Linked DNA regions of Homo sapiens: all the other regions are linked to region 1. Evidence: fine-mapped expression QTL. A gene starts in region 1. Each other region holds a variant in brackets. All regions are shown on one strand. Distances are between the middles of the regions.

Region 1 (8,000 bases):
TCACCGTGTTAGGATGCTCTCGATCTCCTGACCTTGTGATCCACCTGCCTCGGCCTCCCAAAGTGCTGGGATTACAGGCGTGAGCCACTGCACCCGGCCCGAGCTGCCTTTTTATAAGCTATTTTATGTGCTTATATTCTACTTCTTTTGCTTTGATAAAGGGGTTCTACCACTAAAAAGCAGTTTAAAACCTCTGCTATGGGCAAGTTGTGTGTAAGTTCCTGGAAGGACAGCTTATGGAGGAGAATTCCAGTAGGCTCTGGCAAGTCAAGTGTGCTTTGGACCGTGGGAAAGGAGAGAAGAGGCATGCCATACAGCCCAGGTGGCTGGGAGACCCAGAGACTCAGAAGGGCCAGTTACATGGGGCAGAGGCAGACTGACTTCCTGAGCTCTAAAAGCAGCAGCCTGGCCTCCATTCTGCTGTCCGGCTCTGCAGAGGGACACAAAGCAAGACACGTTCTAGACAATTCCCTGGTTATGGTGTCAGGACAGCTGGGAACCCATGGCCAGGAGGCCAGTGAGGAAACCAAGGAAAGAGGTGACAGAGCCCGAGCTGGGCAGGGGCAGTGACCCCGGGACTCTGAGAAGCGGTGGCAGGCTGGCGGTCTCCACTCTCCTCATCCTTAGGATCCCCATTGCCCCTAAGCTGCTTCTGGACTCTTCTAGGATCTCCTCTCTCTCTTCCCTTTCCCTCAGGCCTCACTCCATAACCCCCACTTGCCCACGGAAGCTGCTACTAGAGCTCTGGGCTGTCCTCCAGATCCCTTGCCTTGGAGCTGGGACAGAGCTGAGCACGTGCGGGGACCTGGGGGCTCTAGTTCATACCATGACATAATAGTTGCTGTTCACCATGAGAGGGCTCCTGCCTCGAAGGTAGATGTACTCTTCCCACCAGTCACTCACCTGTGGGGAGGTGGAAGGTTAGAGCTGGGGCGGGTGCAGCCAGGACACATGGCAGGTGACAGTGAGCCCAGGGGCAGGAACTTACATAGTTACTTGCCCACCATGACTTGAGCACCAGGTATTTCTGCAGCCTGGGGGCAGTCTTGTCCTGGAATTCTTTGGCCAGCAACTCCATGCGGTAATATTCCTCATCATCCAACAAGGGGCGCACAGACTCTAGGTACTGTCCAGCCAGTTATCATCACCGTGGGGCCAGATGGCAAGGGCTGCCTCTATCTTAATCCTCTTCCCACCTCTCCCTCCTCACCCAGCCCCATTATTCTCAAGCCCTTAAGGCCACTCTTTGCACAGAACCTTATATTTGGAAACATCTCCTGAATCCAACCTCCCCTGCCCACTGGGATGCCCAAGCGAGGCCCTCACCCGCTGAATTGTGGCTGACACCCTGGGCACAGGAAGCTTGGGCAGAGATGTCTGGAAGCTGTAGAGCATAGGGTGCCGGCTGGATAGAAGGCGGATACACATCTGGGGGTACAGAGCAGAGTGCTGGGGTGGGAGCCAGTGGAAAAAATGGAAACCAACCAGCAACTCCCTGAGACCCTCAGAGCCATCCCAGCCCCTCCAGGACAAACCACACACCAGGCACCAGTGCCCTGTCTGCCTCTCCCGTCTAGCTCAGAACCCCAAAGGAGTCCAAAGAGTCTCAACCCAGGTGCCTGAACCCCTCCACTGGCTGCTGCTCACAGCCCAGATCCTGGTCAAGTTGCTGGTCTTGCCATGCATCTCAAACATCCACCCATGGTAGCAGAGAAGCAGCTTCAGGGTTTGGCGGAAGAAGAAGATGCCCGTCACCCAGACGCCCGTGGAGAAGATGGCCATGCTGAGAAGTGCCCGGGTCTGCGGGGTCTGGTAGGGGCCACACCTATTGGAGAGGGGCAAGGGCTGCAGGGGGTCCTCTTGAGGCCAGCCTCGGGTGGCTGTGAACTGTCTCAGGGGAGACACCAAGGGGAAGAACCTCCCTGGGCACACTCATGTCTGACTGCATCAAATGAGCGGATGTAGGGCTAAGACAATGGTTGTCATAGGGGAGGGCTGCCCCGTGACTGCCAATGGCTGCTGTCCTGTATCTGCCCAGCTCAGGAACCTCAGCCTTGGGAGCTGGGCCCAGCCCTCCCTGGTGGCACCTGTGCCCTTCCAGTTTCACTCCTTACCCCTGAGGGAGGCATCTCTGGATGCAACTGACCAGCCCCAAGGAGATGTCCACGTTGCAGAAGGAGGAACCCACTGTTGCCATGATGACGACCAGCCAGCTGGTGGGGCTGCCAGGGTACACGCCCCTGAGGATGCCATTCTGTGGGCAGAAACAGGCGCCCTTATGGAGCCGGAAGGCGGGAGGTTAGCCTGCCTGTGAAGTCTTGGGAACTGGCTCCTGGTCTTGGCCTGGAAGGCTTTCTCTCCTGATGCCCTGCTGTGCTCCTTCCTCCGCCACACCCACAGCTCCCTGTGTCCGACCACATCCTGTGCACCCCTCTGGTGTCTGTACTTCCACAACCTGTACCGGGCAGAAGTGCCAGCCAAGGAGGCAGTGAGGGACCCTAACAAAGCGCTTAACAGCTGACAGCCGGCCTCTGCCTACGCTCTGGGAGAAGCACCTGTGCGCACCTTGATGCGGATCAGGCGTTTCTTCCAGGAGTTGATCCCAGACAGGTAGACGTGTTTCAGGGCCTCCCGACTGAGCCGGAAGTCGACCCCGTCTGGGGTCACCGTGAACTGGAAGGCCACGGCCTGGTGAGCTTCCGCCATCCTGGGGGTTGGTCGGCACCTAGGACGGGGGCAGATGGGTGCGCGGGCGCGCTTAGGCCGGCCCCGCCGCCAGCCGCGCCGAGACGCCCCCAGCCAGTCCGCGACCCCTCGCGCCCCCCACCCCGCGACTAGCGGCTGCCCCCGGCCCGCGCCCCCCGCCAGGCCAACCGCCGCCAAATCCTCGCGCCAGCCTTCCGGGTGGGCACAGCCACTGTGGTGCAGGGGATTTGGGCCTTGAAAGCTCCAGGAGCCCCAAGGACGGCGAAGGGCAGCCTGGAGTTGGGGGGCGTCAGCGAGGGCGCGGGCAGGGGAGAGAGGCGCCCCTGGAAGTGGAGCCGGCCTGGACAGAGGCAGGGTTCGGGAGCCCGCCCTTCCCCACCCGAGCGCGCGGGCCCCAGCGCCGTCCTCGCCCCTGTGCAGGGCTGAGGGCCCAGACCCCCGCGGGCCGCCCTGTGCCGGCCCCTACTCACAGCTCGGGTTCACTCCTGTCCGTGCGTGGGGCCAGCCACTCTGGCCCGTGTCCCCACGTCCTTCAGGCCTAGCCACCCCCGCCCCGCCCTCACCAGGAACCTGACACCTACTCCCAAATCGGGGTCGGGGAAAAACGTGGGGCGAGAACCAGAACCCACCCACCTTCCGCGGTGGGAATTGCAGGGCGCGGCTGGGTTTCTGTGCGGTGAAGGTTGCTCAAAGGTCTGGGAGCCTGGGGGGCCCCAGAGTCTCGTGAGGATGGTGGCTTTAGAGCTAAAAATAGCCAAATGTAGGGAAAAGGTCACCGATGTGTCAGCTGCTGCCTGTTCTGGGATCGCTGGTGCTCCGGGCGGCATCCCCACCTCAGGGTCGTCTTCATACCCCCATCACTCTCCTCCTCCCCAAGTCCTAGTATTTATTATTCTAAGCTGCAGCCAGGGGACTGGGGAGGGATGGGGGACCCCAACTGGCAGCATGAACGCTAACCACTTTCAATCCCAGAGCACTGAAGAGTCCCTTTGTGTGTACTGCTCGGTTTGGTACTTTCTGCTGCTGCTCAGCAGGGCCAGGACAGGGTGGGAAGAAGAAGCTTGTTTATTGTGTTACATACACAGCACGGGGCTCTGGCCTGCCAGCCATGGGGACCTACTCAAACTCAGGAACAGGCCGGTCTCCTGAACCTCAGTTTCACTTGGGGGCTCAGCCCAGTCGCCAGGGCCTTCTGCTCGTTGTTCCTCCCTCCAAGGTCCTGCCCTGGAGGCTCCAGGAGAAATCCAAGGAGTGGGAGGGTGGAGTCAGGATGAGGAGTGGACACTGGTCAGCTGCCCCTTCTGCTGGAAGTAGAACTGGAACCGAGACTGGGCATAGTCCTAGGGAAGGAAACCCACCCCACACAGTGGTGAGAAGACGTGGGACCAGCATTCTACATCCACCTCAGGCTGCCCACAGCCACCCGGGACTCCCCAGGCCTCCTGGAAGAGTGTGGCTGCTGCTGCTCCCCAGCCCCCCAGCTAGCATTCCCATCCCCAGGGTCACTTACCAAGTAACCAAATTCTATGGTGGACATGGATGCCTGGAGGATGGACCACAGACCCCAGAAGAAATGGGATGCCAGAGCATACCTGGGGGGAGGGCAGGAAAAGGAGGGGCATTCAAGAGCATGTCTAGCACTGCTTGGATCCCCTCACCCAGGTTGGCCAATCCCTACAGTTTTAACTTCTCCCCCACTGTCCTAACTCCACTCTCCACAGCCACCTTCCCTGCAGCTTGATAAATCTGCCTCTTCCCCAATCCCTCTTTCCTCTGCTCTGCCCTACCCCACCCTGCCCCTCCTTCCTCACCGACTGACTTCTACCAGCAAATCTTCTTCCAGTTTTCTCTGCTCCTCTTGGGAGAGGGTCTCACCTTTCTTTGCCTCTGCCAGGTAATGACGAATAAAATGCAACTACGATCAATGGCCAAGAGTCAGGAATTGGGGAGACTGTGGAGTATTTCCCAGGTAACATCCTTTCCGGCCATTCCTTCCAGACTCCACCTCCCTCCTTCCTCACAGGATGGGTCCTGCTCCCCAGCCTCTGGCCCACATACCTGCTGTTCTTGAGTGGGGTAGTCTGTGGGCCTTGCTTTGTAGAAAGGCCATTCCTCGTGAGTATAATCATAAACCCACTCACAAAAATGGTTCCCAATGTCAAAGCCCCTGGGAGAATAAGGTGGACATTCAGTCCCCAAATGCCCTGGGCAGCTGGCCTGTTTTCAAGAGCCCTATGGGAACAGATCTATGGGAAGCCATCTTTCCAGCCTCACCTATAGTTATAACTGCTGTACTCGAAGTCCACCAGCATGAGGCTGTCAGCATTTTCTGGCTCTGAGAGCAGCAAGATGTTCCCTGGGGGAATGGGGTGAGGTTCTGCTCACTCCAGAGCCCTCTGGCTCTTCCATCTTGGGTTAGGAGACTCAGATGCCTTCTCCTACCTTCCTGGATGTCATTGTGGCAGAAGACGACTGGCGATGGGGTAGACTCTAGTAACTTCCTACAGGGGTATGGGAGCATGGGTCCTGAGCAGGAGTGACTAGAGGAGGATCAGAGCCACCCTAACAGGCCAGGCCCTGACACCAGCCCTCAGCAACTACTGGAAGGGCGGACACCATTACCATTAGCCTTGTCCTGCCTGCCCTCACCTGAGGTTGCCCATCTCATCCTTCAGGCTGTACATCTCCAGCAGGTTCATCTCAGGGAGGCCAGTTGGGGGCAGGTCCTGGATCTGTTTTAGGTACCTGAAGCCCAAAGAATAGGATACACTGGCTCTGCTATTCTTTCCCACCCCTCGCCTATCTACCCCTCAGGCCAGACTACTGCACCCCTGCTCCTATCACTGTGTGACTTGTCCGGCAATCATTTCTTTTTTTCTTTTGAAATGGAGTCTTGCTCTGTCACCCAGGCTGGAGTGCAGTGGCGCGATCTTGGCTCACTGCAACCTCTGCCTCCCGGGTTCAAGCAATTCTCCTGCCTCAGCCTCCCGAGTAGCTGGGACTACAGGTGCATGCTGCCATGCCTGGCTAATTTTTTTGTATTTTAATAGAGACAGGGTTTCACTGTGTTGTCCAGGCTGGTTTTGAACTCCTGAGCTCAGGCAATCTGCTCACCTCAGCCTCCCGAAGTGCTAGGATTACAGGCATGAGCCACCGTGCCTGGCCTTGGCAATCATTTCTTTTTTCTTTTTTTGTTTGGTGTTTTGAGACAGAGTCTTGCTCTCACCCAGGCTGAAGTGCAATGGCATGAGCTCAGCTCACTGCAACCTCCGCCTCCTGGGCTCAAGTGATCCTCCCACCTCACCCACCTCGGCTCCCAAAGTTCTGGGATTACAGGCATGAGGCACTGCATGTGGCCTCTGGCAAGCATTTAAAAGCCTGTTCTGTGACAGCCCATGACATCAGATCCACTCAAGTGGAGGGCTGGATAGAGCCCCCGACACATCCGCTGGCATGGAGGTTCAGCTCAGGAGTACAGGAGCCCTGAGGAGGCTCCTGACTCACCGCTCCATGGTCCCAAACAGCCAGTGGGGCTCCTTGGTGAAAGGCATCTCCATGCCATGAAATTGCGCCATCTTCGTGGCAATGGCTGCTGACAACACTGGCTCTCGAAGCTCTTGAGTTTTCAATGGCCGACTCTGCACCCAGGAAGCTATCAGGGTGGTGATGGGGCTGGGGCAGGAGTGGGAAGGGCTGGGGCAATGAGGGGAAGTCAGGGTTTTGGGGGAAATTCCCTACTTGGGGTGAGGGATGTGGAGGCAGACATTGGGCACTGGGGTAGGGTTAGGGGGTGGAGGTGCCTTGGGGAGGAGAGGGTAGGACTGGGCCCGTACTGGGATGTACTGTTCCAGCCGGCCCTCTGGGAAGACTCCGTACAGCTGGGGCCCCAGCGACCGCTCCGCAAGTATGGCGAACATCACGCTTTCTAGCACCAGGGAGTCCACGCCCTGAAAAAGGATGGACAGCAAAGGGGCCAAGGCAAAGTGGCACAGGGACACACATGAGGGCTCGCCTTCCTCCCACCAGAGCTGCGACTTCTGATCCAATTGCCTGGAGGCTCTGGAGCACAGGCTTTAGCGTTGGTCTATTTTTATTTAGAGATGGGGGTCTCACTATGTTGTCCAGGCTGGTCTCGAACTCCTGTGCTCAAGTGATCCTCTCGCCTCAGCCTCCCAAAGCTCTGGGAATACAGGCCCAGGCTTCGGTGTAATGAGGTGTTACTCAGACCGTGAACCTCGGTGTCCTCAACTGCGCAACGGGAACAATACTACCCGCATCGCGTAAGCGACAGGCCCTAAAGCCACTGGTGCTGCGGCGCTCACACCCCCCTCACCTGCAAGATGGCTCCGTACAGCCGCAGAAGCACCTCCCGGGGCTCCTCGCCAACGCTGGGCAGGTGGTCCGGGAGCGAGCAGCGGAAGAGCAGGTTGCTGAGGCCTCCGCTGCAGACCCACACCAGGCGCGCTCAGCCCGCGGCCGGCCCTACCTGCCGCGGCCCCGGCCCCCTCCCGGCCAGGCCGGCCCCGCCCCGCCCCAGGCGCGGGCGCAAGAGGGGGGCGAAAACATGGAGCATCCTGAGGGCCCCGCGGCTGACCCCTGACCCCGATCCGCGCACCGGAGAGGCTGACCCCTGACCTCCCACCTCACGGGGTAAACCCTCAGCTCCTCGGGCTGCACTCGGCGCCAGGCCCCGCCCAAGTACTCCCGGCACCATTGGTAGGCTCGGCGCTCGGCGTCACGCGACAGCGACGAGGCGCGCCGCCGTTTTGGGGTAGTGTCCGGGCACTTAGACTGCTGCAAGCCGTCTTTGGCCAGGCAGCCGCCAACAGCCCCGCTTCCGGCCACAGCTGTCGCCTCGGCCGCCATGGCGCGGGCTCGACCGGGCCCCAGGCCAGGCTGCGCTCCGCTCCCTTCGGACGGGCTCGGTTCCTTCCGGCCGCGCTCGGCTCCTCTTCCGGCCGGCCTGGGCTTCTCCGGTCATACTCGGGTCTCTCCGGCTCTATTCGGCTCACGGCTGCGGCGCTCGGCTCTCTCCGTGCCCCGGCCCGGGGGCTCTTTCCGAAGGCCGAATTCCGCAGATCTCTGCCGGGCCCCGCCCCTATGGGCAAGGACCAATGGTCTCTCTCTGGGCGGGGCTGCTGTTGGACGGCCTGGGCCAATCCGAGGCGCCGGAGGCCAATCAGTTGGCGGAGCGGCGCGTGCGCGGGCGAGGAACTGCCCGGGCGCGGTAGCGTACGGGAAGACCGGAGAGGAGCTGCGTCTCTGCCCCGTGGGAGCCGGCGGGGCGGCGGGGC
Region 2 (8,000 bases), 25 kb before region 1:
TGGGCAACACCATTTACTGCCTCAACCCCCAGGTCACTGCCACCTTCACGGTCTCTGGGGGGACTGCCCAGTTCCAGGCCAAGGAGCTGCAGCCCTTCCCCTTGGGGAGCACCGGGGTCCTCAGTCCATTCATCCTGACTCTGCCCCCTGAGGACCGGCTGCAGACCTCACTCTGAGTGGCAGGCAGAGAACCAAAGCTGCTTCGCTGCTCTCCAGGGAGACCCTCCTGGGATGGGCCTGAGAGGCCGGGGCTCAGGGAAGGGGCTGGGATCGGAACTTCCTGCTCTTGTTTCTGGACAACTTTCCCCTTCTGCTTTAAAGGTTGTCGATTATTTTGAAGCCCAGACTCCCTCAGCCTCTTTCTGCCCCTCACTCCACACCCAGACTGTTTCCTGACTCAATTCCGTACCTACTTACAGACCCTCTCAGCTTGCTGACACCCCCCTGTCTGTGGGACTCCCTATTCCCTAGAGCCAGGGACTGATGCGTCTCCACAGACAAGGACTTGGCTCGCTGGAGCTCTGCTGAGCCGAGAGAGGAGGGGGTAGAAAACATTCACACTTCCTATGCTCTGTCAGCAGGACAGGGAGCAAAAACGTCCCCAGGCAACGCCCTCGCCTCTGGGACTTTCTGCCTGTCCTAAGGCCTCCCCAGGTACCAACCCCGTAGCTATCTGGGTCTGTTTGGCACTGTGGATTCTCAAGGGCCTAGAACCCTTGCCTCTGAAACTGGTCCGCTGGTGCAGCCCTGCTGTCTGCAGCTCCTGCCCATACCCCCAGCCCACACCAGGCCAGGCCCACTCCGGGCTCACCACCCTCTGCAGCCTTGTGGGGCTCTCCCAGCCCCTCCAGAAGCCCACCCCACTTCTCGCCAACCCCCGATCTCTAAATGAGGCCTGAGCGTCACCCTAGTTCTGCCCCTTTTTAGCTGTGTAGACTTGGACGAGACATTTGACTTCCCTTTCTCCTTGTCTATAAAATGTGGACAGTGGACGTCTGTCACCCAAGAGAGTTGTGGGAGACAAGATCACAGCTATGAGCACCTCGCACGGTGTCCAGGATGCACAGCACAATCCATGATGCGTTTTCTCCCCTTACGCACTTTGAAACCCATGCTAGAAAAGTGAATACATCTGACTGTGCTCCACTCCAACCTCCAGCCTGGATGTCCCTGTCTGGGCCCTTTTTCTGTTTTTTATTCTATGTTCAGCACCACTGGCACCAAATACATTTTAATTCACCGAAAGCACCTGCAGCTTGCACTTGTTGTGTTTTGTTCACAAGGTTTGATATGCAGCTGGGTGGATCATGGCACAGGAGAGAAGAGGTCCTCGGGCTGTGCTTAAAAATAAGTTTATTAAGAAACAAGTACAGTGCATACAGCTATTCATGTGGGTGCCAGCTCCATCCCCCAGTGACCTCTTCATACGGGCAGAGGGTGGCATGGCAGCTGTGGTGGGCCAGTGGGGCCTACAGCCTTTGCTTGGTCTCATGCAGCAGCTCTTGCCAGTTCTTCTCCATCTCCTCCTTGCAGTTGACGAAGGCATCCTCCAGCCGACGCATGGACTCGGCCAGCGTAGGGTTGGTGCGCATCACCACCATGTCATAGGCCATCCAGGTCGCCTGCACTGCAACAAGCAGACAGGACTGGTCAGGCCACAGGGAGGGGCTGCAGCTCTGGGGTGCCCCAGAAGGGTCAGATGCCTCCAGCTGGGCTCAGCATCTGGAGGCCCAGATCCTGCTGAGGCACCCAATTACTCTAGGGAGAGACAGCTGGTAGGCTACTTGTTACAGGCTCATAAAAACTCCCTACAAACATCCATAGTGACGCTTCCTAGTCTCATGCAAGGCATAACTTCTGGATACACCAGACATGATGTAAAAAACTAGAGGCTGGTCTGATACGAAATGTGAGGAGAATTAGAGCAAACCGCAGCTCCTTACCTACAAGCAGTTCACAGCCAATGGCTGCAGGTGACCCCTAAGGAGTCATCCACCCAAGCTCACACACTCAGGTAGAGTTGATTGTTTCCAGTCCTGCAAGACCCAAACCTCATGTCACCTTATGTTCAGTGGCCTGGGATGCCTGCCCACCTCCACCTGGGCACCTCTATGCTTTCGTTGAGGCCCAGGCCTGGGGCTTCTCCTCTTGGGAAGGTGTCCTTGACCATCTACCAATGCACTGATGGGCTCTCTTGCTCTTTCCCTCTGACAGCAACTCGAAGGTAGCATTCCCTGGGCCTATAGGTGAACACATGCTTCTTGTGTGAACTCAAAGAAGTGTGTGCAGAAATCCCACCTCCAACTTTTTCTCTGCATAGTCCACCGGCTGGTGTGGTTCAGCCCTCTGCAACTATACAGAACAAAGGTCATCTCCCCTCTGCATGACAACCAACTGTACATAGCAAACACATCCCCTTAAAATTCCTCTTTGTGGAATCCTCACAAGCATCCCAGATCGTTCCGGTGCAGGGAGGCCGCAGACTACCTGGACAGCAGGTGCAGCAGGGACCTGGGGCCAGAGCAGAGTACGCCTCCCAGCTCCCCACCTGACGACTCTGTGACCTGGAACAAGTGTCTGCAATGTATCAATCTCGGCCGGGTGCGGTGGCTCACGCCTGTAATCCCAGCACTTTGGGAGGCCAAGGGGGGTAGATCACGAGATCAAGAGATTGAGACCATCCTGGCCAACATGGCCAGTGTTCCTGGCCCATCTCTACTAAAAATATAAAAATTAGCCGGGTGTGGTGGTGGGTGCCTGTAGTCCCAGCTACTAGAGAGGCTGAGGCAGGAGAATCGCTTGAACCCAGAAGGTGGAGGTTATATATACATAAATCTCAGTCTCCTCATCTTTGGAGACCCTACCAATCTCATGGCTTACTGTGAGAATTAAATGGGTGATATATGTAAACTGCCTGGCACACATGTTATGGACTGAATGTGTCCCTCCCACATTCACCTGTTGAAATCCTAACCCCCGACGTGATGGTATTAGGAGGTCGGGTCTTTTGGAGATGATTAGGTCCTAAGGGTAGACCCTCCTGAATGGGATTAGCACCCCTTAAAGAAGAGACACAAGAGCTCACTCTCACTCTATGCAAGGATATGTGAGGCTCTATGTGAGGATACAAGAAGGTGGCTGGCCGGGCAAGGTGGCTGGTACCTATAATCCCAGCACTTTGGGAGGCTGAGGTGGGTGGATCACTTGAGCTCAGAAGTTTGAGATCAGACTGGGCAACATGTTGAAACCCTGTCTTTACAGAAAATACAAAATTTAGCTGGGCATGGTGGTGTGCACCTGTAGTTGCAACTACTCAGGAGGCTGAGATGAAAAAAAGGATCCCTTGAGCCTGGGAGGTGGAGGTTGCAGTGAGCCAAGATTGCACTACTGCACTCCAGTTTGGGTGACAGAGTATGACCCTGTCTCAAAATAAATAAATAAATAAATAAAATCCCAAAGTGCTGGGATTACAGGCCACTGCGCCCAGCCATAACGTTTTTTTGAGTGCAAATTAAATCATTGTTTCTTGGCTACAATAATCCTCTAGAGAGGACCAGATTGTAACTTTTCCTCATATTTTTCGTTGGTGCCCTAATGGAATAGGTTCCTTTTTCTGTTCTAATGCACAAATTACTCTTATAATTGTCAAACTTATCTCCCCTCATTTTGCTTCCAAGGAAACTAAAATCATGGTATTCTGCAGATGACCAAAGATATGAATCTCCCTCATTTGGCATCGCACTGGGCCCGGATCTGTTACACTGCAAATGCCCTGCTGCTAAAACGATACAAACACCCTCCCTCTATGCCCAGGGACTATCACAGAAGAGAGAGTCTCGCTCCGTCACCCAGGCTGCAGTGCAATGGTATGATCTCGGCTCACTGCAAGTTCCGTCTCCTGGGTTCAAGTGATTCTCCTGCCTCAGCCTCCTGAGTAGCTGGGATTCCAGGCATCCACCAACACGCCCAGCTAATTTTTGTATTTTTATTAGAGATGGAGTTTCACCATATTGCCCAGGCTGGTCTCAAACTCCTGACCTTGTGATCCTCCTGCCTCGGCTTCCCAAAGTGCTGGGTTTACAGGTGTGAGCCACCGTGCCCAGCCTGTAGCAGATTTATATAAAAATGCAATATGCGGCTGGGTGCGGTGGCTCATTCCTGTAATCCCAGCACTTCGGGAGGCCAAGGCAGGCAGATTATGAGGTCAAGAGATTGAGACCATCCTGGCTAACACGGGGAAACTCCATCTCTACTAAAAATACAAAAAAAATTAGCCATGCATGGTGGCGGGCACCTGTAGTCCCAGCTACTCGGGAGGCTGAGGCAGGAGAATGGCGTGAACCCGGGAGGCAGAGCTTGCAGTGAGCCGAGATTGTGCCACTGCACTCCAGCCTGGGCAACAGAGCGCGACTCTGTCTCAAAAAAAAAAAAAAAGCAATACGCAGCGTAGGTCATTTGGCATGCCAGATGGGTTAGGATTAAATGTTAAAAAGGAATACGGAGAAAAGTAGAAGAAAATACAACTAAATATTTCACTGATCTCAGATTGAGGAAAGACTTTCTAGGTGTCAAAATAATGGCAATAAATCAGAAAGGAAAATATTGATAGATTTTTCACTACATAAAACTGTTTGCTGGCTGGGCGTGGTGGCTCACGC[G/T]TGTAATCCCAGCACTTCAGGAGGCCAAGGCAGGTGGATCACCTGAGGTTAGGAGTTTGAGACCAGCCTGGCCAAAATGGTGAAACTTCGTCTCTACTAAAAATACAAAAATTAGCTGGGCATGGTGGCAGGCGCCTGTAATCCCACCTACCCAGGAGGCTGAGGCAGGGGAATCACTTGAACCCGAGAGGCGGAGGTTGCAGTGAGCTGAGATCACATCATTGCATTCAAGCCTGGACGACAGAGCAAGACTCCGTCTCAAAAAAAAAAAAAAAAAAAGGCCAGGCGCGGTGGCTCACACCTGTAATCCCAGGACTTTGGGAGGCTGAGGCGGGCAGATCACAAGGTCAGGAGATCAAGACTATCCTGGCCAACATGGTGAAACCCTGTCTCTATTAAAAATACAAGGCCAGGCGCGGTGGTTTACGCCTGTAATCCCAGCACTTTGGGAGGCCGAGACGGGCGGATCACGAGGTCAGGAGATCAAGACCATCCTGGCTAACACAGTGAAACCCCGTCTCTACTAAAAATACAAAAAATTAGCCAGGCGTGGTGGCGGGCGCCTGTAGTCCCAGCTACTCGGGAGGCTGAGGCAGGAGAATGGCATGAACCCGGGAGGCGGAGCTTGCAGTGAGCCGAGATCACGCCACTGTACTCCAGCCTGGGCGACAGAGCGAGACTCTGTCTTAAAATAAATAAATAAATAAATAAAACCAAGCTGTGCTCTGACCACCTTGGGCACATGTCATTAGGACCCCCTGAGGCTGTGTCACAGATAAGTGTCCCCAAACTTGGCAAAATAAACTCTCTAAATTAACTGATACGTGTCTCAGCTATTCATAGTTCAAAAGTACATAGGCAAAAAATTGCAAACATTTCTAAGGAGAAATTTTCTAAAGTCTGCTCTAGTGAATAAAAGCTATTTGGCCAGGCACGCTGGCTCATACCTGTAATCCCAACACTTTGGGAGGCCAAGGTGGGTGTATTGCTTGGCCAAAGTTGGTTCAAGCCGTGAGGAGAAGGAGAAATTGGGTATGCCTCGTTATACCTGCCTCTCTTTTGGAATTCAGGAAAAGGTGACTAGCATTAACATGAACACAGACCTTAAGTTTGATAAGAAAGCTTTTTACAATCTATTCCCTCTGAAGCCTGCTACCCGGAGGCTTCATCTGCATGATAAAACTCTGGTCTCCACAACCCCTTACCGTCATAACCCAGACATTCCTTTCTATTGATTCCAGGTCTTTAGACCATAACTCTTTCAACCAATTGCCAATCAGAAAAAATTTAAATCTATCTATAACCTGGAATCATCCCCCTTTGAGTTGTCCCACCTTTCCAGATCGAACCAATGTACATCTTTTTTTTTTTTTTTTTTGAGACAGAGTCTCACTCTGTCGCCCAGGCTGGAGTGCAGTGGCACCATCTCGGCTCACTGCAAGCTCCACCTCCCGGGTTCATGCCATTCTCCTGCCTCAGCCTCCCGAGTAGCTGGGACTACAGGTGCCTGCCACCACACCCAGCTAATTTTTTGTATTTTTAGTAGAGACGAGGTTTTACTGTGTTAGCCAGGATGGTCTCGATCTCCTGACCTCGTGATCCACCCGTCTCGGCCTCCCAAAGTGCTGGGATTACAGGAGTGAGCCACCGCGCCCGGCCGAACCAGTGTACATCTTACAGGTACTGACTGATGTATTCTCTCTCCCTAAAATGTATAAAAGCAAGCTGTACCCTGCCAACCTTGAACATATGTCCTGAGGACCTCCTGAGGCTGTGTCACAGGTGCATCTTTAACCTTGGCAAAATAAACTTTCTAAATTGATTGAGACCTGTCTCAGATACTTTTGGGTTCACACATCCTACCTGAGATTTTCTCCATCTCTTCTAATAGCTTTTCCAAGTCCTTATTCAGATCTGACAGCATTTTCAGCATGTTGTCATAGTTTCTTTCCTCAGGGTCAGCATCATCCATCTAGGCAATGCACAGAAAGAAGCTGCAGTCAGACAGACCTACATTTCAAATCCAGCTCCACTGGTTATAACTCAGTGATTTCTCTAAGGAATTCTTTCCCCATCTCTCAGATTCAGACAATACCACGTACTCCACAGGGCTGTTGTGAAGGTTAAATGGGAACATGTCTAAAGGCCCCAGCATAGCATTCGGCACATATAAGTTGTCCTTCCCCTTTCTTCCATCTTTGCCATACAAACGTAGCTGAAGGCTGGAGTCATTAACACAGAAAACATCTTCATTATAATGAAAAAAGTCTGTCATAATGGTGACATGGAATTTTTTCTTGCAAAACCATATTGAGTACCCACTAAGATGCAAGCTATTGTGCTGATGTGTTTCAAAGATACAATTCCTGTACCTAAGGAATTTCTAGTGCAATATGGGAGTAAGTCACACACACCATATGACAAACCAGGATGTGACAGATGTCGAAGCAGTTAATGTAATAATTACAGACATCAAGCGATGGGAGCCTGGAGGCGGGTACGTTTAATTTTAAAATATGAAATGATTCATACATTAAAAAAAATTATAATCAACTTAACTTTCCAGAAGAATTCTCCTGGGCATTAGAGGCAGTGCCCCATAGAGACTGTCCTGGTTCTGGAATTGAGCTGCCTGGGTTCAAATCTTGGCGCTACCTCATATCAGCAGTGTTACTTTTGGCAACTTACACATCTTCTCGACAAATTTTTGGTAATTTTTTTGAGTTTTTTTTTTTTTTTTGAGACGAAGTTTTGCTCTTGTTGCCCAGGCTGGAGCACAGTGGCACGATCTCGGCTCACCACAACCTCTGCTTCCTGGGTTCAAGTGATTCTCCTGCCTCAGCCTCCTGAGTAGCTGGGATTACAGGCAAGTGCCACCACGCCCGGCTAATTTTGTATTTTTAGTAGAGATGGGGTTTCTCCATGTTGGCCAGGCTGGTCTCAAACTCCTGACCTCAGGTGATCTATCCACCTCGGCCTCCCAAAGTGCTGAGATTACAGATGTGAGCCACCACACCCAGCCAAGTTTTGTATTTTTTAAACGGGAATTATTAGTATTACCTATATCTTGTGGAGTTTTGTGAGGATTAATTGAAATAAATTATATACTGTTCAGCACAGTACCTACCGTAATGAGCACTTAATAAATCATATCCGTTGTTATTTAAAATGTTGAACAGTAATTACATCACTCCAGATCCTCTCCTCACCTTTATTAATATACATTAATTCATTCTGTTAATATTTGATGCTCACCTATTTATCTACAAGGCACTAGTAAGAAAAGAGAGAAATAGATAAATAATGTAAGAGCTGCCAGGGAACTTGTAACCTCATGAAGGT
Region 3 (8,000 bases), 820 kb before region 1:
ACTACAGGCGACCACCACCAGGCCCGGCTAATTTTGTTTTTGTATTTTCAGTAGAGACGGGGTTTCACTGTGTTAGCCAGGATGGTATCAATCTCCTGACCTTGTGATCCGCCCACCTCGGCCTCCCAAAGCTCTGGGATCACAGGTGTGAGCCACCGTGCCCGGCCCAGACTTTTCTTTTCTGTGAATGCTACATGTTTTGGCATCTAGCCTGACAGGTAGAATTTACTTGCAAGGACCTCACATTGATCATCAGTCAAGGATCAGGGCTCCAGAAGTAAATCATACAGAAAGTGATCACACCGTGTCTCAGGCCACACATGGCCCGTGCGTGCCAGTCCCAGGCCACACATGGCCCGTGCACTCCAGGCCCAGGCCAAGCCTGCGGCCGAGTGGGCAGGTGACCCTGGGAGGAGCAGAGGAGACGGGAAGGCAGGTGCCCCTCAGCTCCCTCCAGCGCCCACCTGGCTGTGGTTTCTCAGCGGGAACAAGAAGAATGAAGACCAAACCCTGAGGGGAAGATGTTTCCCAGCCTCTGGGCCAGAAAAGCTGCTCCAGGGAGGAGAGGGGTTGCACATGGTGCCCCACGTCCCCTGTCAGAGGCCGCTGGCAGGACCACATCCCAGAGCCCCCCCAGAACCCGGGAGGCGCAGGCCTGGAGCCCAGCCAGGCACACACCAGGGCTACTCTGACCCTGGAAAGAGGTTAGAAACAGCCGCTGTCTGGATTCTCAATGACAAAGGGATGGATGTTGAGGAAGACAGAGGGGGAGTGGGTGTGGGAAGGAGGACACTGAACAGAAAGGGCCTGGATGCCCACGATAACAAAAGCAAAAGCTGAGGAAACTTCACAGGGGGCAGGGTTGGAAAGAGGAGGGGTGGGGTTCAGGCTAGACAGAGGAGGGGTGTGGTTTAGGCTGGACAGAGGAGGGGGTGGGGTTCAGCCTGGACAGAGGAGGGGTGTGGTTCAGACTGGACAGAGGAGGGGGTGGGGTTCGGGCTTGTTCTGCAAACCCAGCGTGGGTACCTCGGCCTTTCTTATCCCCAGCATGCACTTGGAGCCTGTGCCCCTCACCTGTCGGCGCTCCCAGCTCGGGGGTTTGTGCCCCTTCCTGGTCCCCTCCCCTTGGGTGTTGCCGGGACCTGTTTCTTGCTCCTAAGCCACATCATAGGATCAAAGCGATAGAGTGTCCGTGGCTAAGTGTGTGTGCACGACCACACCACGCACGATTGTGACCCTGCCTTGCTGGAGCCGCTGTCTCCTTTGCTGCGGGAACACAGCAGCCGTGCTGGGCAACACCACGTACCTGGGACCTTCGGTGGCCTCTAGCACCAGAGTGCAGCCTCTGGACAAAAGCCAGTGAGAAAATGAAGCCGTCAGTCCTACAGTTGGAAGGACGGATGGTTGCCAGCACCCTGAGTGAGCGTGGAGGTGAACTCTGCCCCAGCTCAGCCTCCAGCCCAGCCGCCACCTGATGGCAGCCTGTGGGCCCAGCAGAGGACCCCACGAAGTGGCGCCAGACCGCTGGCCACAGAGACTGAGATGACAGATGTGTGTCGTTTTGAGCTGCAAGATTTGTGGTGACCTTGTTACACAAGGACAGACGCTAACACAACGGGTTCCCACAGCAGGTCTCCAGGGCTCAGGGAGTTCTAATCACGAGACCTCGGGGGGGGTCTTTCGGCTGAGTGCAGAGAATAACGCGGCTGAAGGTCACGGCCAGACGCCTGAGGACCAGCCACTGACACCCTCAGCATCGAGAGCTGCTGCCGAACTGTGGCCAGGCCCTTTCCTCTTTTTTTTTTTTTTTTTTTTTGAGACAGAGTCTTGCTCTGCCGCCCAGGCCCAGGCTGGAGAACAGTGGCGTAATCTCAGCTCACTGCAACCTCCATCTCCCTGGTTCAAGCGATTCTCGTACCTTAGCCTCCCAGTAGCTGGGATTACAGACATGCGTCAGCACACCCAGCTAATTTTTGTATCTTTAGTAGAGGTGGGTTTTCACCATGTCGGCCAGGCTAATCTCGAACTCCTGGCCTCAAGTGATCCACCTGCCTCAGCCTCCCAAAGTGCTGGGATGACAGGTGTGAGCCACCGCGCCCGGCCAGCCAAGCCCATTTCTAAGAACGTCCATGGGAAGGAAGGAGGGATGTAGCCAGGGCCAGGACCACCCCAAGAGCAGAGTGATGGGTGCGGGTGGGGAGCAGAGCTGGAAGGGGCCCAGGGGCCGTGGTTCGTGGACCTCAGGCCCAGGCCAGCCCCCGAACGCTGCAGCTCCTGGCTCTCCAAGCAGCTTCCTAGGGACCATCAGTAAAACTGTGACAGCAAACCCACAGTAATGTGATTTAATTAAGAGATAACGACAGTGGAACTGGGAATTGTGCCGGGTAACGGGTCGTCATCGCCTCGGGAGCAACAACTCGGAACTCAGGATATTAATGCATCACCGTGGCACTGTTTGGGGAGAATTGCCGTGTTTTTCAAATGCCTTCAAACTTCTATTTTCCTTCCACAGTCTCTGAGTTTGCCCCAGCCCCCCACTGATTAGTTCCAGCTACATCTGCCTTTTCTCATTAAAAGAAAAGCTTGTGCATTTTATTTTCAATTAACTTGCAGGAATCTATCAGGAGAAAGTCCAGCTGAACCTCATCATTCACAGTGCAATTTCTCAGAACCGCCAGGGACGGCAGGTGTGATCCAGGGTGGGGCTGGCCTCCCACCTGCTGGGGCACGTGCACTCCAAGGGCTCTCTCGGGCCAGGGCCGCTGCGCTCAGCCTCCTGCACAGACGCACCTGCTGGGGCACGTGCACCCCAAGGGCTCTCTCGGGCCAGGGCCGCTGCGCTCAGCCTCCTCCACAAAGCAGGGAGTGTGGGGAGAGGCCTCATCACACTTCCCACCTGGCAGCAGGTGCCTGGACACCTGAATCTCCTCCACTCTGCCCTCCAGTCTTGTCCCCTTGAAGACACATGGGGCAGGGCCAGACGGCTAATGCGTTAGGATATGGGTTCTGGCCTCTGGCAGCTCTCAGAGCCTGCCTGGCGCTCCCTTGGTGAGAATCTGACCTCTGGGCACCTCTTGACTCCCCTGGCAAGACAGAGTGGCCTGAGGGAGCCATTGGTCCCAGGGGACACTCGCCAGGACCCTCCCGCAGGCTGTGGATGTGTGTGGCCTGTCCTTGGCTTCCCTGGACCAGACCTGCCCATGGGCCTCTGGTGTACGTGGGTTCAGTGCATGGCTCCTGGGAGAAGAGTGGCTGTTTAGCCACTGAAACATCACCTTCCTCACAGCTCTTTCCTCTTATAAGTTTGTGCCTTTCTCCAGGCCCCAGCTGTGCCCAGTGGCAGGGATGAGATGAGATGTTCTGAAGTACTCGTCAAAGGCCCGGAGAAGCATCGCATGGGACAGGAGGGGAAGGACTCCTGGGGGCACGTCCTGGGCCTCTGCCCGGAGACCCAGTGTCTTCCTGCCAGCATCTGCTGCCAGGCAGCAGCACCTCCTCCAACACCTCATGCCAAGCATTTAGTGTTTTGTTTGGGAAGTCGCCGGGCACAGCCTGTCTTGCAGGACGCAGGAGAGGACACTGGAAATATCACTCATCATCAGAACAACCCTGTTCTCCAGGGCTCAGCCCTCACCTCCACTCCTCAGGGCACGGACAGGTGGGCGGGGCCGGGAGCCTCCGCAGCCCACACCCCTGCGAGGGGTCTTGCAGGAGGGGAGGCATCTGCGGCAGAGCCCAGCGTCCCCACTGCCGGCATCCCTGCCTGTCTGCAGTTCAGCCTGGCTCCCAGCAGGCCCGGCAGCATCTCCTCTGTGAGCTCCCAGCCCCCTGCCACTGCACATCGCAGGGCAGCCTCACCTCCCCATCCCTGGGAGGACAGGGTCCCTGGAGCGGACACGGGAGTGGGGCCGCCTCACATTTGCTCCCAGAGCAGACCCTCCTGCTTCCCTCCACAGCAGGCCCTCCGCGGGAAGCCCCCTCCCATGCCCTGTCCCCCACACAGCAACCCCGACCGCCTTCACCCAACCTGCCCCACCCCCGCTGCAGCCCCTTTCCAGCCCAGCTCCTGCCCCCCACCGACCCTCCTCCTTCTAGAAGCTTCTCCCCTTGGCATTCAGGTGAGGTAAGAGACTGGCAGGACTAGTTTTCTGGTCCCAGCCCCACTGACCCAACCAGGACCTGGTCCAGGCAGGATGAAGTGAAAAAACCAGCAGAAACCAGCAGACGATGAGAGGCAGATCCCTGGCTGCCCTCACTGCTCATTGGCATCAGACATGCCCACCAGTGCCATGACAGTTTACCAATGCCCCATAAGGTGCCACCCCTTTCCATGGCAACGCCCCATAAGGTGCCACCCCTTTCCATGGCAACGCCCCATAAGGTGCCACCCCTTTCCATGGCAACGACCCATA[A/C]GGTGCCACCCCTTTCCATGGCAACGCCCCATACGGTGCCACCCCTTTCCATGGCAACGCCCCATACGGTGCCACCCCTTTACATGGCAACGCCCCATACGGTGCCATCCCTTTCCATGGCAATGACCCATATGGTGCCACCCCTTTCCATGGCAACGCCCCATATGGTGCCACCCCTTTCCATGGCAACAACCCATAAGGTGCCACCCCTTTTCATGGCAATGACCCAGAGGCTACTGCCCTTTTCCTAGAAAATTCTAAAATGACTTGCCCCTCAATTTGCATTGGCCCATCCTTAATTTGCATGTAATTGAAAGTGGGTTCTCATGGGTATAAGTATAGCTGCCAAGCACCCATACACTGTTGGCTGTGGGTGCACTGCCTAGGAGTTAGCCCTGTCCTCAAGAAGCAGTACCGTTCAATGAAAGACTGCTGTCCAACGCCACTAGCTCACCCTTGAATTCCCCTTGGGGAAGCCAAGAACCCTCCCAGGCTAAGCCCTAGTTTGGGGTCTTGCCTGTCCAGTAACAGGGGGCCCTCCCTCTGCCACTTCACTGCCCCTTCCTTGTTCCCCCTCCAAGTGCAGTGCCCAGAACCCAGACACCACCCACTCACGGGACCTTCCCTCTTTCCAGAGAATTCTGAGTCTCGGCCTGGCTGTCCTAACTCCCCTCCCCACAGCTTTTGACTTTCACCTCCACTGGGCTGTCCAGCCATGACCCCAGCCCCCGGCCCCTTCCTGTTACAGCTGGAGGGTCCTGACTCCCACGTCCCCCACAGGGGCCCCCAGCAAAGCACAGCTCCAGACCTGTGGGCCCCATGCAGGCACCATGGTTCATACCTGTAATCCCACCACTTTGGGAGGCTGAGGCAGAAGGATTCTCTCGAGCCCAGGAGTTACAGACCAGCCTGGGCAACACAGCAAAACCTTGTCTCTAAGGAAATAAAAGCAAAAATAAAGAAAATCAAGATGGTAGCAGCAGAGCAGGTCCTCCCACGCGTGCTCGCCCAGCATGTGGCTGGAATCCTGCCAGCTCTGCCCCTCTTCCTGCAGGTGAATGATGGGGACCCTGCACAGTGCCCCCCTCCTCAGAGTTGCCTGCCCTGATGCCCACACAATGACAGCCCCGCCCTCTCCAGCCCCTGCTGTGTCCCTCCACCTTCACCCCACAGTGACTGTGTGCTTCTGTCCGAGTCCCCATGAACCACAAGCCCGTGGTTGAAGGTCTCTTCCTGTTGCTGAAGCCCCAGTCCCTGGTGTGTCCCCCAGGCTATGGTAGGGGTCCCAGAGCATCTGTTGACCACTGTAGTCAGTTCCAATTTCAGACATCAGTGTCCACAGGGGCTTTGGTGCGGATGCCAGTGCTTTGGGCTGGCCTCTTCTACAACTCACCTCCAGCCATGTCATGGCCTCAGCTTAAATCCCTTCAGATGCACGACTGACCAGGCCAGCACAGCAGCCCGTCCACCTGTCTGGGTGACCCTCCTGCCCTGCTGGCCTTTTCTCAGGGCCAGGCTGCAGGTTAAGGCTACAGTGAGCTATGACTGCACCAATGCACTCCAGCCTGGGTGACAGAGCAAGACCCTGTCTCAAAAAAAAAAAATTATCAAAATCAAAAATGAAAGATGGGATATCACTACAGATCCGACAGAAATAAAAAGGATGATAAGAGAATGCTATGAACAATTTTATGCCAACAAATTACATAACCGATTAAATGGACAAATTACTGAAGGAAACTACAAAGACTTACTCAACAAGTAAACAGATTGAAATAGTAATTTTTGAAATTTCCACACTGAAAAGCACAAGGACGGACGACTTCACTTGTGAATTCTACCACACTCTTTTTTTAGTTGCTGTCAACAAGCTTATTGTCTTTATCTGGAAAATCCTCATAGAAATTGTTTGGTTTAGCTTTCAGCAGCCTGCTCCTGAGCTCTGAGGAAGCTTGCCTTCTTTTGAACTACCCAGTCTTTCTTCTGAGCAAGGGACGTTTTCACCTCTTCTTTTTAACTTGTTTCTTAGGCTTCTTTTCATAGACTGGATTATCTTGTATAGCAGCATGAGCTTTCTTTTTTTTTTTTTTTTTTTTTTGAGATGGAGTCTCGCTCTGTCACCCAGGCTGGAGTGCCGTGGCGCAATCTTGGCTCACTGCAACCTCCACCTCCCAGGTTCAAGCGATTCTCCTGCCTCAGCCTCTCGAGCTGCTGGGATTACAGGCATGAGCCACCAAGCCCGGCCACAGCATGAGCTGTCTTATACATCTCCTCCATCATGTCTGGAGTTAAGCTTTTTTTTTTTTGGTGGAGTCTCACTCTGTCATTCAGGCTGGAGTGCAGTGGCGCGATCTCAGCTCACTGCAACCTCTACCTCCCAGGTTCAAGTGATTCTCCTGCCTCAGCCTCCCAAGTAGCTGGGATCACAGGCACCCACCACCACATCCAGCTAATATTTGTATTTTTAGTAGAGACGAGGTTTTACCATGTTGACCAGCTGATTGTGAACTCCTGACCTCAAGTGATTGCCCTACCCCGACCTCCATAAGTGCTGAGATTACAGATGTGAGCCCCTGCGCCTGGCCTACCCTGTTCTTTATGTATTGAGAGAGTTTCTTGTAAGCATCTTCATCTTCCTCCATTAAGTAACGCATGTAATCTGCAACATTCTGGCCTATGATGTGCTTCCAGTGTACTTCTGCATTAAATTCTTTGCTTTCAGAATCATGACCAGGGAATTGTTTGGTACCGTGAGGGACAGACCAGCCTCCATCCACAGCTCCCTTTAGGGCACCAAAAACTTTATTGCCAGCGGCAGTTCTGGCAAGCTCTGCATCCAAAGAGTAGACAAAGGCACCCAGCTGACCATCTATGCTCTCCACACTGTATTCATCGCCAGTCACCTCCACTTGGCCTTCTTAGATCTTGTCCAGGCCAAACCTATTGAGAAGCCTGCGGGCCAGCAGCAGGCCAGGACAATACACTGCAGTGTCATTTGTCAGGCCAACCTTCACACTATATTTTGGCAGTTCGTGTGCATATGCTACACAGACTATCATATCCCCCTCTATACGGGCATAAGCAATCTAACAAATGATATCTCTGTTTGTTACACAAACTATCATCCTGTATTTGGATATGTGGTGTTTATTTTTATCCTGTATCACCAAATGTTTCTGAGCATAGTGATCAGTTTTACCCTCGCCTCATCGTCTAAATTTCACTTGGTATCTCTTAAAGCAGGCCTTATTCTTAATTTTAACAAACCCCATCCTATGGAACAGAGACCCACGTCTGTGGCTCAACAGAGACCTACGGGCCCAGCAGCGCAGGGCAGGGAAGGGCTTTACCAAGCATTTAAATAAGAAACGCTAATCCTTCAAACATTTTTTCAACATAACGGAAGAGAAGGTAAGACTTCTAGATATGGTTTGGATGTCTTGTCCCCTCCAAATCTCATGTTGAAATGAGATCTCCAATGCTGGAGGTAGGCCTAGTGGGAGGCATTTGGGTCACAGGGCTGGATGCCTCAAGAATGGCTTGCAGAAATGAGTGAGGAGAATTCACTCATTATTCCTGAGGCCTTCA
Region 4 (8,000 bases), 55 kb before region 1:
CCCAGAGAGTACTAGCAGGGTTTATTTTTATCTTATTTTATTTATTTATTTTTGAGACAGGGTCTTGCTCTGTTGCCCAGGCTAGAGTGCAGTGGCCTGATCTTGGCTCATTGCAGCCTTGACTCTCTCTAGGCTCAGGTGATCCTTCCACCTCAGCCTCCCGAGTAGCTGGGACTACAGGCGTGTACCACCACACCCGGCTAATTTTTGTATTTTTTGTAGAGACGGGGTCTCACTGCATTGCCCAGGCTGGTCTTGAACTCCTGGGCTCAAGTGATCTACCCGCCTTGGCCTCTCAAAGCACTGGGATTATAGGCGTGAGCCACTGTGTCCGGTCCCTGTAGGTTTTTTTTTTTTTTTTGGACGGAGTCTTGTTCTTTTGCCCAGGCTGGAGTGCAGTGGTGTGATATCGGCTCACTGCAACCTCTGCCTCCTGGGTTCAAGCGATTCTCCTGCCTCGGCCTCCCGAGTAGGTGGGATTACAGGTGTGCGCCACCACACCCGGCTAATTTTTTTTGCATTTTTAGTAGAGGCGGGGGTTTCACCATGTTGGCCAGGCTGGTCTCAAACTCTTGACCTCGGGTGATCTGCCCGCCTTGGCCTCCCAAAGTGCTGGGATTACAGGCATGAGCCACCACGCCCGACCCTTGTAGGGTTCTTGATGTTAACCCAAGGTGGAGTTCCTGGGGTACCCAGAGCCTTGAGGGGAGAAAGAGGAGAAGTGGGGACCCTGTGACTGTCTTTGCAGAGTGCTGCCCTGCCCAGGAGGTACATGCTGCGGGAGCGGGAGGGGGCCCCAGAGCCTGCATCCTGCGTGAAGGTAGGAGTGTTGGGGCCCTGACCCCCGGCAGGGAGGGATGGGCGGATTCGAGGACTGGCTGCCTGCCCATCATGCTCTTGCTCCTGCTGGCCTGTGGTGTTCCCAGCCTGTGGCCCTTTGCACTTGCTCTCTTAAAGACCCCCTCATGCGACTCTGGGCTCCCACCCTCTCTCTAGTGTTCCCCTCTGTGATCCAGGATTTGAGTGTGGTCGGCTCTGCCCCAGGCTGTCACTGCACTTGTTGCCTGGGCTTTGGGAAGGCGGCTGTGCACCCCCTACTCCTCTGGGAGGGTGGCTGTGTACCCCCTACTCCTTTGGGAGGGTGGCTGTGAACCCCCTACTCCTCCTTTGGGAGGGTGGCTGTGCACCCCCTACTCCTCCTTTGGGAGCGCGGCTGTGTACCCCCTACTCTTCCTTTGGGAGGGTGGCTGTGCATCCCCTACTCCTTTGGGAGGGACGGCTGTGCACCCCCTACTTCTCCAGCGCCTTCTTGTGCTCTGTGCCCAGGAGACTCCAGACCCCTGGCAGAGCCTGGACCCCTTTGACTCCTTGGAGTCTAAGCCCTTCAAGAAAGGTAATTGGGTGGAAGGTACCTCCACTCAGGTACCCCTGGCTGGGTTTCCTGGGGCATGAGGTGGGGGGGTGGGAGTGGGCTTTGCACCCTGATCCCCCAGCGGCTCTAAGACAGTCCCTGTTTGCCCCCAGGTAGGCCTTACTCTGTGCCCCCCTGTGTGGAGGAGGCTCTGGGACAGAAGCGCAAGAGGAAGGGCGCTGCCAAGCTGCAGGACTTCCACCAGTGGTACCTGGCTGCCTGTGAGTGGGTGTGGTGTGCACTCCGGACCACTGGGAGCTGGGGGCTGGGCCAGGGCCAGTGGAGGAGGATCAGCACCCTTTTCCCAATGCTGTGGGCAGCTCTTGGCCTGGCTGGTGCTGAGCATGTTCTTTCACAGATGCAGACCATGCCGACAGCAGGCGGCTTCGGCGAAAGGGTCCGTCCTTTGCAGGTGAGGCTGAAGTCCTCGGGGAAGACAGTTTTACTCTCCTTCCCCTACCTCTTCCCCCACCTGGTGTCACCCAAAGCCTTGGGTGGACTGGCACGGGGCCTGGGAAGGACGAGGGAGCCCTCACAAGGCCTTTGTCTGCAGACATGGAGGTCCTGTACTGGACACACGTGAAGGAGCAGTTGGAAACTCTCCGGAAGCTGCAGAGGAGGGAGGCAAGTCCCAGCTGGTCAGCTGTGATCTAGGACCCCGTGGTGGCCCTGATGGGAGGTGACAGTGCCCCTCACAGATGCTTTCTCTGGACAGGTGGCTGAGCAGTGGCTGCGGCCTGCAGAGGAGGACCACCTGGAGGATTCCCTGGAAGACCTGGGGGCAGCAGGTGGGTGCCTGCCAGGGGGTGGGGTGGGGCTTGGCACCTGCCGACTAGCTGCCTGCGTGCTGTTCACTCTCCCACCTCCCAGCAGATGACTTTCTAGAGCCTGAGGAGTACATGGAGCCCGAGGGAGCAGACCCCAGGGAAGCCGCTGACCTTGGTAGGTGGGCAGCGGGCTAGGAGTGCTGAGGGGCCACTGGAGCTGGGGGCAGGGGAGAGCGTGGCCCCTTAGCTGCCCAGCTCACAGCTACCCCTTCCCAGACGCAGTGCCGATGTCCCTGAGCTACGAGGAGCTGGTTCGAAGGAATGTGGTAGGCCTGGGTTAGAGGGAGACGGGGAGGGGAGGGGGACAGGTGAGCGGTGCCCAGGCCCCTGCTTGGGAGGCAGTAGCTCCTGCTGATCCTCCCCTAGGAGCTCTTCATCGCCACCTCCCAGAAGTTTGTCCAGGAGACAGAGCTGAGCCAGCGCATCAGGGACTGGGAGGACACAGTGCAGCCTCTGCTCCAGGAGCAGGTGAGGCGGGGCCGCTGGGAACCAGAGCTGTGTGCCACGGGTCTGTCCAGGGCCTTGCCTCTCTCCGCAGCCAACATGCCCCTCCCCTGTGCAGGAGCAGCATGTGCCCTTTGACATCCACACCTATGGGGACCAGCTGGTCTCACGGTTCCCCCAGCTCAATGAGTGGTGTCCCTTTGCGGAGCTGGTGGCTGGCCAGCCGGCCTTCGAGGTGTGTCGTTCCATGCTGGCCTCCCTGCAGCTGGTGAGTAGCCTGGGATACGTGGGAGGGGGAGACGGTCCCCAGACCCTGCTGATGTGCCACCCCTGCAGGCCAATGACTACACAGTGGAGATAACCCAGCAGCCCGGGCTGGAGATGGCCGTGGACACCATGTCCCTGAGACTGCTCACGCACCAGCGAGCGCACAAGCGCTTCCAGACCTACGCTGCCCCCTCCATGGCCCAGCCCTGAGTGGGGAGCACCGAGGCAGGGGTGGGGGAATGTGTACTGAGGAGCCGTGTGTCTGCTCCTGGCTGGCCCGGCCTAATAAAGCAGTGTTGCCATCTCATCTTCCCCCTAAAAACCCTTTTATGTACACCTGCGCAGAGAAGAGGGCTGCCTGGCCTCCCTGGGCCGCTGGTACAGATCACACACACACACAGATTAAACGCAGCCCGTTTAATGATGGGGCCCAGACTGCAGTGGCTCAAGACAGGACACTGCGGAAAGCCGCCATGTGCCGCCGCACACTGTCTGAGATCTGCTCAGCCGATCTGCTCCGGCCGTAGTAATCCGTGAAGAGGCCGTCAGGGTTGAGCAGGTAGATGGCAATGGAGTGGTCCACGATGTAGTCCTGGTCCTCATCCTTGGGGCCTGCATTGTAGTACACGCGGTAACTGTGACTAGCCTGGGCAACCTGTTTGGTGGAGCCGGTCAGACCCAACAGTCTTGGGTGGAAGTCCTGGACGTAGCGGGCCATGGCTTCAACGTCGTCCCGCTCGGGGTCCACAGTGATGAAGACAGGCTGCACTGGAGGCAAACCAGGCTCTGCTTCCAGCTGCCGCACCACCTGCACCAGCTTCTCCAGCTCGTCTGGGCAGATGTCAGGGCAGTGAGTGAAGCCAAAGTACATCAGCACCCACTGGCCCCGGAAGTCAGCCTTGCAGCGAGCCCGGCCTCTGTGATCCAGCAGGTGGAAGTCGCCCTGGCCCACAGCTGCCTGGCGCAGGGCTTCTGTTCGCTTTTGCTGCTGCAGCCTCTCCTTCTCAGCCCTCAGGGCCAGCCAGGCCCCACCGAGTCCAGCCCCGAACAGGCCTGTGATCAGCAGCCGGGTTCGAAGCCCAGGGCCCTGGGGCTGGCCCTGCCCACCTGTCTCTGCAGGGCCCTGCCTTGACAAAAGCCAGGACCTCAGATGCAGGGCCTGGCCTCCCAGGGTCCCAGGGAGGACCCGAGGCTTGAGCTGAGAGAGCCTGTGCCAAGCTGTGGGGCTCCGAGTCAGCAGCAGCATGGATCTGATGCTCCTGGAAACAAGCACAGGCGTCAGGAGCCAGAAGGGAAGGCCCAGGACAGTGCCTGGGCTGCCCCTGCGACTTGAGACCAGCCACCCATCTGAAGGACCCAGCCCACGTTCAGGCTTAACAGGCATTTGCAGCTGCTCACCTGAGCTCAGAACTCCACCTCCACCAAACATCCACACCTGGGCAACCACACCTGTCACTCCTGTCCTCTACCTGGGATCACCAGCCTGTCACCGCACCCTGCCCTGCACCTGCACCTCAGCAAGGTGAACCTCTTGCTGACGGAAAGCATTCCAAGTGCATGCCTTGCCTGAACTAACCACGTTATCTATTTGCAATAAACCCATTTCTTAAAAGGAGGTGGGTAACTCTCTGGCTTGCAATCCCCGAGAGCAACCGATTCCTCCAACACTTTCCTGTTACCTCCAGCCACTTCAACCAACCGCGGCCTTCCTCCACACTCCCAGCAGAAAACCTGCACGACCTACCCCCGGAGCTCAGACTCTGCCCGCCGGCTGTGTTTAACCTCTCCTGGCAGAGACGCACGACACTTCCACCCGCCACAAAACCCCACCCTCCTCACATCCAGGCTTCCCAGCAGCTCCTCCGGGCTCACAGCCGACGCCCTGCCTTTGCGTTGGTGACCTTTGAGCCTTTCCCACGGGCCCCCGCAGAAGGTTTGCTAGGTGGAGGTCTCAGGACTCCCGGTCACTGC[C/T]CCCTCCTGCTGAGGGCACCCTCCCGAGGACTCACTGCACCCCCGCCCGGGCGGTTCTGGGTTTGTGCCCTCCCCAGCAAGGCCAGCGCCCTCGTGGCCAGAAAGGTTCCAGGACCACTCGAAGCGCCGCGCGAGCGCGTTATAACTGTGCTTGGCCGCGAGAACACCGGTGCCTGCTGGGAGCCTCCCACGGGCGCCCCAGCCTCGCTCCGGCCTCCAGCGCGCCCTGGGGTGTGCCCCGCCAGCCCCGCGCAGTAGCCGGAGCTGGGAAACTACCCCGGAGTCCAGCGAGTCCTCAGGGCTACCTCCTCCCCTCCCAGCCCCGGCGTCCGCACCTCGCGGCGGGGCCGCGCGTCAGTGGACCAAGCACGAGAGGAAGCGCCGACCTCCAGCTCCCTGCGCTCTGCCCCGCCGGCTCAGGGAAAGCGGGCGCCACACGCTCACAGGCAGGGCGCAGGCGTCCCCGGAGCTGCGCATGCGCACACGGGCGCAGCCGCTGACAGGCTCTCAGCGCGTGCGCGGAAGGCGGAGCCCGCCGGGGGTCACGTGTTCATCGAGACGGCCCCCGCCTCCGCAGCCCTGGATCCTTCCGCTCCCGCCCAAGCACTGACAAGGTTTCGCGGCAAAGGAGCTTTATTGCTGCGGCGGCAGAACGAGCTCTGCGAAGGGCGAGGGGGCGGCGAATGGCGCGCGGTCGGAGAGTACGAGCGCCTCCTGCAGGGCGCGGCTCTGCGGGCCGCTGAGCGCGGGGCCGTCCCGGTGCACGCGGAGCCAGGGGGTCCCTGCAGAGCGAGGGGCTGTTAGAGGCCGCGCGGCCGGAGCTGGGCGGGGGTGCGGGGCCAGCAGGGCGGGGGCGGCGCTCACCACGGCGCAGCCTCTGACCCACGTCGACCAGCAGCTCTGCGCCCACCCCCAGGCGGAGCGGCTCCCCAGCGCGGCTGCGCCCGGCCCCGAGCTCGTGCAGCACCAGCGCCAGCGGCAGCGCCCGGACCAGCTCCACGGTGCCTGCGGGGAGAGGGGCTGAGAGGCGCGGGCTCGGGAAGGGGCGGGGCCTCGGGAAGGGAAGGGGATGGCGGAGGCGGAAGGACGGGGACTCCCCCGACGCTCACCATCTGCGGGCGCCAGCAGCTCCTCCTGCTCCCGGGCGCGAGGCAGCAGCTGCCGGCGTTCTGCGGGACTTCCCGAGCACAGGGCTCGGGCCAGACCGGGATCCACGCCCTGCGCCGCCAGCATCCGCTCGAAGCGGCCAAGGGCCGAGCCGTCGTCCAGCGCCGCGGCCACCCGGGCAGCGCCCTGGGCCTGAGTCCCCGCGTGTCCGCTGAGCCAGAGCAGGGCGCCCCCTGCGGGCGGGGACGGGTCTTAGGCGCGGCCGGGTCGGGGCGGCCCCAGCGGGAAGCACCCCCCGCCGCCTCCGCTCCCCTACACCCCGTCCCCCTCACCGAGCGTGGTGACCAGGTCCCTTAAGTCTGGCGGGCCTGCGCCGTCCATGCAGAGCAGCGCCTCCTCCACCTCCAGGGCGTGGCCCACGCAGCGACCCAGGGGCTTGTCCATGGCGGTCAGCGCTGCCGCGACCCGAAGCCCTAGGCTGGCTCCCACGCCAACCTGCGGAGAGGAGGCTCAGCGTGGACCCCCCATGGCGGGGCCTTCTGCAGCCGGTTCTTGGTCGAACTCCAGCCCCTGCTGCACCCTGGGTTGCCAGCCCCCCAGCATGAAGTCAGGGAAGGATTGGGGTGGGGAAGAGACACGAGTGAAGTGCGACACCTCGCCATGGGGCCAGGAGGAACTTGTACTTGGTCTGGGGCAGGAACGCCACAGAGGGCTTCCCCAGGTCCAGGCCGGGCCAGCCTTGACCTCTAAAGTCACAGCAGGTTAGGAAGCCGTGAAGGAGGGAGGGACTTCGGGCAGAAGAGGGTGGGACTGGGGTTAGGCAGGACTGCTGAGTGGAGGGAGGCAGTGGGGACGGGAGGGGTGAAGGGTAGGCTGGGCCCGCATCAAGACGCTTGCCCAGGGAAAGGCCACACCGCTCACCAGCGTCTTTGCCAGCTCCCGGGCCTGCTCCTGGTTGGGGAAGACGGCGGCCCCTCCGAACTTAACGTCCACCACCAGAGCGGACAGCCCCTCCACGAGTTTCTTACTGAGAATGGAGGCTTTGGGGGAGGCAGAGGAGGTTGGAGACAATGGAGAACCTGGAGCTTCTTGGGAGAGTTCGGGGATGCCGACTTTGGGGTCAGGGGCCCTGAGCATTGAGGGTCAAGTCCCTTATTATGGGGGTGGCAGCACCTGGTGGGTTGAGTATCAGGCCACCCCACATGGTGGTGGTCAGGCATCTTGTGATGGGGGTAGGGGGGCACACGGTCAGGTGACGGGTAACTCCTAACGAGAGGCCCTTGACTTGAGTTTGGAGGTCAGGAGCCTGTGAACATGCAGAAGCAGGCCATGGAGTCAGGTCACCTGTGATGAGTGGCAGGCTGTCCACGGTGGCTGTCACATCTCTGGCTGCATATAGGATTCCGTCCGCAGGAACCAGCTGCTCACTCTGACCCACGATACAGCAGCCCGCCTGGTCCAGCAGCACTTGCATCTGGTCAGACATCCCCTGTTCTCAGTGACTTATGGTAAATGACTTAGCAGCTTTTTTTTTTTTTTTTTTTTTTTCTGTGAAGAGTCTTCCTCTGTTGCCCAGGCTGGAGTGCAGTTGGCACAATTTCGGCTCATTGTGACCTCTGCCTCCTGGGCTTAAGTGATCCTCCCACCTCAGCTTCCCAGTAGCTGGGACTACAGGTGCGCACCACCACACGCGGCTTTTTTTTTTCTTCTTTTTTTTGTAGAGATCAAGTTTCACTATATTACCCAGGCTGATCTCCAACTGGGCTCCTCTGCCTCCCAGAGTGCTGGGACAGGGTCTCACTCTGTTGCCCAGGCTGGAGTGCAGTGGCATCGTCCCGGCTCACTGCAGCCTAGACCTCCCAGGCTCAAGTGATCCTCCTGCCTCAGCCTCCTGAGTAGCTGGAACCACATGCGTGCACCACCACACGCAGCGAACTATTTTGTAGAGATGGGGTTTTGCCGTGTTATCCAGG

The links.
Region 2: its variant is fine-mapped to the expression of CPT1B in thyroid (GTEx, PIP 0.97).
Region 3: its variant is fine-mapped to the expression of CPT1B in naive CD4 T cells (Schmiedel 2018, PIP 0.95).
Region 4: its variant is fine-mapped to the expression of CPT1B in whole blood (TOPMed, PIP 0.98).

What each region holds. Positions count from the first base shown.
Region 1 is chr22:50,575,210-50,583,209 of GRCh38, forward strand. CPT1B (carnitine palmitoyltransferase 1B) reads right to left here and starts at 3,218. Exons shown (of 20, transcript NM_152246.3): 1 at 3,177-3,218; 2 at 2,566-2,725; 3 at 2,115-2,254; 4 at 1,648-1,825; 5 at 1,327-1,428; 6 at 989-1,126; 7 at 826-903. The coding sequence starts at 2,706. CHKB (choline kinase beta) reads right to left here and starts at 7,640. Exons shown (of 11, transcript NM_005198.5): 1 at 7,349-7,640; 2 at 7,040-7,148; 3 at 6,540-6,653; 4 at 6,211-6,344; 5 at 5,356-5,451; 6 at 5,149-5,207; 7 at 4,981-5,062; 8 at 4,765-4,873; 9 at 4,518-4,621; 10 at 4,217-4,298; 11 at 3,754-4,046. The coding sequence starts at 7,572. The coding sequence ends at 3,972. CHKB-CPT1B (CHKB-CPT1B readthrough (NMD candidate)) reads right to left here and starts at 7,790. Exons shown (of 30, transcript NR_027928.2): 1 at 7,349-7,790; 2 at 7,040-7,148; 3 at 6,540-6,653; 4 at 6,211-6,344; 5 at 5,356-5,451; 6 at 5,149-5,207; 7 at 4,981-5,062; 8 at 4,765-4,873; 9 at 4,518-4,621; 10 at 4,217-4,298; 11 at 3,827-4,046; 12 at 2,566-2,725; 13 at 2,115-2,254; 14 at 1,648-1,825; 3 more. It overlaps CHKB-DT (CHKB divergent transcript), which reads left to right and starts at 7,817. Exons shown (of 4, transcript NR_110536.1): 1 at 7,817-8,000. RefSeq lists an enhancer at 931-1,225 and silencers at 931-1,225, 2,710-2,789, 3,130-3,249, 7,137-7,336, 7,667-7,756 and 1 more.
Region 2 is chr22:50,549,776-50,557,775 of GRCh38, forward strand. KLHDC7B (kelch domain containing 7B) reads left to right here. Exons shown (of 1, transcript NM_138433.5): 1 at 1-1,248. The coding sequence ends at 176. SYCE3 (synaptonemal complex central element protein 3) reads right to left here. Exons shown (of 3, transcript NM_001123225.3): 2 at 6,522-6,630; 3 at 1,337-1,627. The coding sequence starts at 6,630. The coding sequence ends at 1,470. Among named protein-coding and RNA genes, the nearest start is that of KLHDC7B-DT, 4.8 kb to the left of the region's middle. The variant G/T (reference allele first, on the strand shown) is at 4,659.
Region 3 is chr22:49,751,297-49,759,296 of GRCh38, forward strand. It overlaps the pseudogene RPL5P35. Among named protein-coding and RNA genes, the nearest start is that of BRD1, 73 kb to the right of the region's middle. The variant A/C (reference allele first, on the strand shown) is at 4,413.
Region 4 is chr22:50,520,217-50,528,216 of GRCh38, forward strand. NCAPH2 (non-SMC condensin II complex subunit H2) reads left to right here. Exons shown (of 20, transcript NM_152299.4): 10 at 749-820; 11 at 1,327-1,393; 12 at 1,525-1,632; 13 at 1,770-1,823; 14 at 1,965-2,035; 15 at 2,127-2,199; 16 at 2,285-2,353; 17 at 2,455-2,504; 18 at 2,605-2,706; 19 at 2,801-2,950; 20 at 3,019-4,564. The coding sequence ends at 3,159. It overlaps SCO2 (synthesis of cytochrome C oxidase 2), which reads right to left and starts at 5,382. Exons shown (of 2, transcript NM_005138.3): 1 at 5,256-5,382; 2 at 3,352-4,208. The coding sequence starts at 4,195. The coding sequence ends at 3,395. It overlaps TYMP (thymidine phosphorylase), which reads right to left. Exons shown (of 10, transcript NM_001953.5): 5 at 7,372-7,501; 6 at 6,949-7,067; 7 at 6,360-6,522; 8 at 6,030-6,260; 9 at 5,785-5,925; 10 at 5,536-5,702. The coding sequence ends at 5,554. RefSeq lists silencers at 5,054-5,353, 5,564-6,393 and enhancers at 6,484-6,783, 6,592-7,163, 6,954-7,153, 7,174-7,323. The variant C/T (reference allele first, on the strand shown) is at 4,921.